Linked DNA regions of Homo sapiens. Changing the gene in region 1 together with any one later gene gives a genetic interaction. Each region holds a gene or a part of one and is shown on either strand. Other genes may lie near its edges. The genes, in order: COPZ1 and EGFR.

Evidence for each region.
Region 2: changes in COPZ1 (region 1) and EGFR together harm fitness more than expected from each alone (negative genetic interaction), as found in Homo sapiens cells (one large-scale study listed by BioGRID).

The regions. Positions count from the first base shown.
Region 1 is NC_000012.12:54,345,391-54,349,205, reverse strand, and holds part of COPZ1 (coatomer subunit zeta-1), read right to left. Parts: intron 3,747-3,815; coding exon 3,691-3,746; intron 1,440-3,690; coding exon 1,362-1,439; intron 1,207-1,361; coding exon 1,155-1,206; intron 1-1,154. UniProt on the Homo sapiens protein: The coatomer is a cytosolic protein complex that binds to dilysine motifs and reversibly associates with Golgi non-clathrin-coated vesicles, which further mediate biosynthetic protein transport from the ER, via the Golgi up to the trans Golgi network.
Region 2 is NC_000007.14:55,154,875-55,158,689, forward strand, and holds part of EGFR (epidermal growth factor receptor isoform a precursor), read left to right. Parts: intron 1-955; coding exon 956-1,072; intron 1,073-1,658; coding exon 1,659-1,785; intron 1,786-1,884; coding exon 1,885-1,958; coding exon of another isoform or gene 1,959-1,969; exon of another isoform or gene 1,970-2,065; intron 2,066-2,788; coding exon 2,789-2,879; intron 2,880-3,815. UniProt on the Homo sapiens protein: Receptor tyrosine kinase binding ligands of the EGF family and activating several signaling cascades to convert extracellular cues into appropriate cellular responses.

The DNA.
Region 1 (3,815 bases):
AACGACAGCATGTTAATTTGAAGAAATAAACTGCTGCAACAGCAGCCTAAGAAGACAAAGCGGGGAGTTGATGGGGGGGACCCTCTCTCTTGCCACACAGAGACATATGTTAGAGGAGAAGATTAAACTATGCAAATGGAGCCCACAGCAGTTAAGAGAGATTTCCCATTACCAAGCACTGTCAGCCTTCACTCTGTGGAGGTCAGAGCCAGGACATTCTGTGAATGGGGAGATTTGCTTTGCTCAGACATCTTTGCACCCGTATAATTTGTTGGTGGGCTCTCTCTGCATCCACCATTATCTCCTCAGCTGACCTGGGGCCTTCTATGGTTAACTCAGAGGCCCCTTTCTGATATCACCAGCACCAAAGAGGACTGAGGTTCTGGCAAATAAGTACTTCCTAATGGAGAGGTACCATCCTCAGTTATGTAACACTTTATTATTATTATTTTATTTATTTATTTTTTTTGAGACAGAGTCTCACTCTGTCGCCCAGGCTGGAGTGCAGTGGTGCAATCTCGGCTCACTGCAACCTCCACCTCCCGGGCTCAAGCAATTCTCCTGCCTTAGCCTCCTGAGTAGCTGGGATCACAGGCACGCACCACCATGCCCAGCTAATTTTTGTGTCTTTAGTAGAGACAGGGTTTCACCATGTTGGTCAGGCTGGTCTCGAACTCCTGACCTTGTGATCCGCCAGCCTCGGCTTCCCAAAGTGCTGGGATTACAGGTGTGAGCCACCACGCTCAGTCCTATGTAACACTTTAAAAGACAAAACAGACACTCCTCTGCCTCAGATGACTGGATCCATCTCCAAGAAGGGAATAAGCCAACTTCAAGTTGCTTTATAATTTCAAAACCATAAATATTAAAGTTTATTTTATCATTTATTAAATAAGTATGTATTAAATGTCCACTTTGTGCAAAGACTGTATGAGATGTTAGGCACCATATTAGGGGTAGAAATAAGTTATTTCTGCTTCTTTCTTTGGGACAATAAGAAGAGAAGGGAAGAGAAAGGCTGAATGTATTTGAAAGAAAAAGAGAAGGTTGTATGTATCCTATGAGCCCCAACTACTGGACACATCCAGCAGGTCTGGCTCTGGAGGGTGTTTGTGAATAGATGCGGGGATGCAAAGAAACACATTCTTGCTTACCCTTAATGCCACCCGGTGTACCACCTGCTGGGGATCACTCTCTAGGATCACCCTGCAAAAACAAAGAAGAGATCATTGTTCACTCTGTCCCGAAGGCCCAACTCACTGTCGGGGAACAGGACCTCTGGCCACTGAGCCTGCTTGACTTAGGACAGGGGCAGTTATCCCGCCACCTCACCCAAGATCAAGGCAGGTCAGAGAACTTACCCTCCATCTACAATTTCATCCACAGCCAAGAACAGCCCCTCCATGTTCTCCAGCAGTGCTCGCTTTTCTACATTTTTCCTGAGTCCCCAAGAGAAGAGAAGAGAATAACCAACTTGTATGTGAAAGAAATCCTAGGACCTTGTCTCAATTGAGGAACCTAAACTAGACCAATAAACATCTCCACCAACCACACAAAGAAGTAAATAAGGTGAAGAACTTTTTAGCTAGTTCACTCAAAACCCCTTTCTACTCGTTTGCTGAATAAGGAATGTATGGAAAGAGATTCAAATAACACAGTCAATTTCTGACTATTCAGGGGTTGATTATCCACGCTATTATTTCTTTCCTACCTGCCATGATGCTGCTCATAACATTGCTCATAAACACTGACATCAGTGGGTGGAAAAAAACAATATAAACAGAGCTAAGACTCAGTCTGGAGGTGGCCGGAGGTGAGAGGGGTTCAATGCAAACCTTATTTGTACTCAAGCTCTGACAAACCTCCTGAGACATTCTCTGTTCCCTCTTCTCCCTATCCCTTACCAGCTCTGCTCAGGCCCTGAAAAGAAGCCCAAAGAGGGGGCAGGGTCTGCATACACCAGCCTCAGATCCGTTGGTTGGTGCATGTGGCCTGTCACATCTGTCAGTTTGAGTCTTTCACTAGATTACCCGAATGAATTACTATTCATTCACCTGGATAAGAAATAAATCATCCCCTTCCTGAGGAAATCTGAGCCATTCACCCTGCTGATTTTGCAGGGCTGAGAGTGCCTGCTGTTCTGGTCTGGATGGCTGTCTGTACTGGGTTCACTTGGGAGCTGCTGGGGGAATGAAGTTCAGAGCCCTGGATGTTTTCAGGAAAAGTAACTTATATCTCTTCTATTACCCATCTACACGGGTAACAGAGAACAGAGGGCTAGTGGGAAGGTGGAAAGGGAGGAGAGGGTAAATGGCAGAAGCTTCCTGTTTTTTGTTTTGTTTTGTTTTTTGAGACAGGGTCTTGCTATGTCACCTAGGCTGGAGTGCAGTAGCATGATCACAGCTCACTGCAGCCTCAACCTCCTGGGCTCAAGCAATCTTCCTACCTCAGCCTCCCAAGTAGCTGAGACTACAGGTATGCACCACCACACCTGGCTAATTTTTTTATTTTTTGCAGAGACAGGGTCTCACTGTGTTGCCCAAGCTTGTCTTGAACTCGACTCATGCAGTCCTCCTGCCTGGGTGCTTCCTGTTCTACAGAAGGGAAAAAACAAGGACTAGAAGTCAAAAAAAAACTGGTCTAAGTGGCTCATGCCTATAATCCCAGCACTTTGGGAGGCCAAGGTAGGTGGATCATTTGAGGTCAGGAGTTCAAGACCAGCCTGGCCAACATGGTAAAACCCTGTCTCCACTAAAAATACAAAAATTAGCCAGGCGTGGTGGCACGTGCCTATAATTGCAGCTACTCTACTCGGGAGGCTGAGGCAGGAGAATCGCTTGAACCTGGGAGGCAGAGGTTGCAGTGAGCCGAGATCACGCCACTGCACTCCAGCCTGGGTGACAGAGTGAGACTCCATCTCAAAAAAAAAAAAAAAGAAAAAAAAATTGGGAGTGTTGCTTCCATTCCTGAAGTACTGAATGACATTTCATCTGGGACACTTCCTTATGCTTGGCCTTTCCCTACTTCTAATGTCAAGAATGAAGCCCAGGAAAGCACCTTGAGGATGCTCAGATCTGACAGGACCACAGGGGATTACAAGAGTAAACACAGAGGTAAAGATTCGGCTCCCTCCCAGTCCCCTTACTTAGTAAGAGAATTATTCTATGGGAGGGACATACTCTCCATCCAGTCCTCCCCAGTAGCATGAATTACTGTGAATTAATAAACCCAACTTTTTTTTTTTTTTTTGAGACAGAGTCTCACTCTGTCGCCAAGGCTGGAGTGCAGTGGCGCGATCTCGGCTCACTGCAAGCTCCGCCTCCCAGGTTCATGCCATTCGCCTGCCTCAGCCTCCCAAGCACCTGGGACTACAGGCGCCCGCTACCATGCCCGGCTAATTTTTTGTATTTTTAGTGGAGACAGGGTTTCCCCATGTTAACCAGGATGGTCTCAATCTCCTGACCTCATGATCCGCCCGCCTTGGCCTCCCAAAGTACTGGGATTACGAACGTGAGCCACTGAGCCCGGCAAAACCCAACTTCTAAAACTAAATCAACTCCCTGGAGCCTTTGCCAATCCCCTACAATCCCTGGGCCTGAAGAATGGTTACTTTATCTCCCAAAAAGAAATCAACAATGCCCTGCTCTTTCCATCATAACTTGAGGGGAAAAAAAAGAATGTCCTGCTCACCTCAGCATCTGGCTCAATGAGTCGAAGAGACAGTTCAGAACAGCCATAAGCATCAGCTGTTGGGAAACAGAGGAGGCAGAAGGATAAGGTTCAAGGCCCTGAAAGCTGCTACCTAAAAACAAAAC
Region 2 (3,815 bases), on another chromosome or scaffold:
CCTGCCAGATTTGTGTACATGAAAAATTTTACATTCCGTATGGAAAAAAAAAACACAAAATAATAAGCCATTATAAGGTAAATGACAAACAAAGCTAAAGAAAAATGTGCCACAGTGATGACACAGATATATCTTTGAGATAGGGCTTAACAGAGCTTTAAAATCCATAGGAAAACACTTCGAGCCTGAGATACCAAGAGCAGATGGTTCACAGAAGAATCATCAATGTCCTATAAATATTTTTGAGGATCTTCTTGGGGAACTTAAAACAGGAACAGGCCAGGCACAGTGGCTCATTGGCTCATGCCTTTAATCCCAGCACTTTGGGAGACTGAAGGGGCTGGATTGTCTGAGGTCAGGAGTTTGGGACCAGCCTGGCCAACAGGGTGAAACCTCGTCTCTACTAAAAATACAAAAATTAGCCGGGCGTGGTGGCGCACGCCTGTAATCACAGCCGCTCAGGAGGCTGAGGCAGGAGAATTGCTTTAACCCAGGAGGCGGAGGTTGCAGTGAGCTGAGATCACACCACTGCACTCCAGCCTGGGTGACAGAGCAAGACTCCATCTCAGACAAACAAAAAAGGAAGACATAGAGCTCCTAAAAATAACGCAGAAGTCTGCTATTAATACAAATGAATTACTTTAAAGGTGAGAGCAGGTGGAGGAGAGGGCTGAGGTGCCTGCTGGGACGCAAAACAGCTGGCCCCTCAAGGGACCCAGTGTTTCCTGCCATGATGAAACACCTGTATTGTCCACATTGCGGCCTAGAATGTTATTAAACTCTTGAACGGGATTCCTTCTCTATTTGCAACCTTTCATTCTTTGTCCTTAAAGTAAATAAAGCCAAAGGAGGATGGAGCCTTTCCATCACCCCTCAAGAGGACCTGGACCGCCTGTGTGAGGCCCGAGCACCTGGTGCCACCGTCATCACCTTCCTTTCATGCTCTCTTCCCCAGGTAATTATGTGGTGACAGATCACGGCTCGTGCGTCCGAGCCTGTGGGGCCGACAGCTATGAGATGGAGGAAGACGGCGTCCGCAAGTGTAAGAAGTGCGAAGGGCCTTGCCGCAAAGGTAGGAAGCCCGCCGGTGTGCGGACGAGGCTTGTTCTCGGCTGCTGAGGCTGGGCTCTCATGCCACCTCCAAAGGAACACATCTTCCTCTTCTCATTAAAAAACAACTATACATATCGTTTCTTTAAAACAGAAGATAAAGCTGTAAAGCTAGGTTAGGCAATGGGAAGGCACTGAAGGTTGTGACGGGGTGGGGGGCTCTGATGAGAACAGTCACAGAGCCAGCCCCGCTCAGCAGCTGCCAGGTGCCCAGCCCTGGGGAGAATCCAGGGAAGGCAGAGCTGGAAGCAGTGCAGCTCCAAGCGGCCCATGGGAAATAATGAGGAGAACGCAAGGTCAGTGTGAGGTGACAGGGATGGCATCTCCTACACCGCCGTAGCCCCAAAGTGTACTATAGGTCCTGGTGTCCCCCCTTCCCGCCTGCACTCTCCCCAGCCCCTTCAGTGTTTGTTGAGTGAATGAAGGATGATGTGGCAGTGGCGGTTCCGGTGACCGGAATTCCTTCCTGCTTCCCTCTGCCTGTGGATCCCTAGCTATTCTTAATCCAACAAATGTGAACGGAATACACGTCTCTCTTATCTCTGCAGTGTGTAACGGAATAGGTATTGGTGAATTTAAAGACTCACTCTCCATAAATGCTACGAATATTAAACACTTCAAAAACTGCACCTCCATCAGTGGCGATCTCCACATCCTGCCGGTGGCATTTAGGGGGTGAGTCACAGGTTCAGTTGCTTGTATAAAGAAAAACAAAATCTGCCTTTTTAACTGGTAGAGATTGGTGATCAATAATCACCCTGTTGTTTGTTTCAGTGACTCCTTCACACATACTCCTCCTCTGGATCCACAGGAACTGGATATTCTGAAAACCGTAAAGGAAATCACAGGTTTGAGCTGAATTATCACATGAATATAAATGGGAAATCAGTGTTTTAGAGAGAGAACTTTTCGACATATTTCCTGTTCCCTTGGAATAAAAACATTTCTTCTGAAATTTTACCGTTAATGGCTGATGTTTTGATATTTTTCAAAAGTGCAGTTTCTCCTGCAGGCAAAAGGGGACACGTTAAGTCCAGGCTTGGGTCATTCACTGCGGTGTAAACACGCTTTCTCCCTCCCGCCCGGCCCCAGCCAGCTGCCTTGGTGGCCCATAACCCCTGAGGGTAGAGGGAGGGGACAGGGGTAGGTGACAGGCAGCCTGGGCCTCAGGCTTTTGAAACTGGACGCCAGAGCCTTGTGGGGCCACGGGCAAGCCTCGGGTCTATGACTGCCGCCTGAGCTCCGCTTCCTTCCTCTCTAAAATGGGAAGATTAGACCAAAATAACAAGACTGTTTTAAGGTTGGAATCAAATAAGGAAAATTTGTAAAGCTCCTTGTATGTGATACCAGATCCACAATTGGCAGATAATCGCAGCAGGAGCCTCTTCGGGGTAATCAGATACGCGGCGCAGCAGGGGTCTCAGGGCCACAGCCAGGGGGGCGGCGGGAGACATGCGGAATCGCAGCGGAAGGCGGGAGGCAGCTGTGAACTGTGGCTCGGCCTGCGTCCGCCCTGCGCATGTACACTCAGAGAAGATGATAATGAAAAAGAAAGCAAATCCAATTTTCCCACTTACTGTTCATATAATACAGAGTCCCTGAGAGTCTAGAGTAATGTCTCATACAAAAAAGAAACTCCTACGTGGTGTGTGTCTGAAGTCTTTCATCTGCCTTACAGGGTTTTTGCTGATTCAGGCTTGGCCTGAAAACAGGACGGACCTCCATGCCTTTGAGAACCTAGAAATCATACGCGGCAGGACCAAGCAACAGTAAGTTGACCACAGCCAAAGCCTGGTAGATTACATTTGCCTTTTTAGTTGGAAATTAGGCTTAACAGGAGAGTTGCTAAGATAGGGCACAGAGCTCCTGCATCTCTCGCCGGCATTCCCAAATGCTATCTCACATGAGCAGGCACAGGGAGCAAGACTGCACGACCACTGGCACAGGCTGTCCGCTAAACCACAGACTTCTCAGCGCTCGCCAGTGCTTCTGCTTCTGTGTCCACTCCAGATCCCACATTGCACTTAGTTGTCAAATCTTTTCAGTCCATTTCTAACCTATATTAGCTCCTGTGTCTTTCCTTGTCTTTCACGGCCTTGACACTTACAAAACGTGTGGGTCAGGTACTTTGCACACTGTCTAACCATGTCTGTTCAGCTGGTGTTTTCTCAGGATGCAATTGAGGTTATGCACATCTTATCACAGGGACCAGAGAGACTTTTTAGCACCACTCTTCAAGAATTTCCACTTTTTCAGCTTTGACAGTGGAATAGACATGCAGGTGCTCACACACAAGCATCTTTAATATGGTAATGGTAATCATCAGTTTAGTGGTGTGGAGGAGGAGATGGGAATCTCTTAGTGAAACCCGCCTTGGAAGCAGCCTCGTTATGAGAACTGCTGCCCCTACTTGACTCTTAAAGCACTAGATAATACTGTGCAACATTAAAGAGAATAAGAGTGCGTGAAATATGCATTGCCTCCCATAAACTCCCTTGGCTCTGAATCTCTGATACTAAATATGTGGCTACCGTTGCTTCCCAGAAAGGCCTTTTTGCTCTGAATTCTCTGGAATGCTTTCTTTGACCAAGATTCTTATAAAAATAAGAGATTTAGAGCAATTTTCTTGGATGGCTGGTATGAGCCAGTTGGCTTAGTTGTAGGGATTTAAACAAGATAAGGGTTACTTACTTTTCACATTTAAT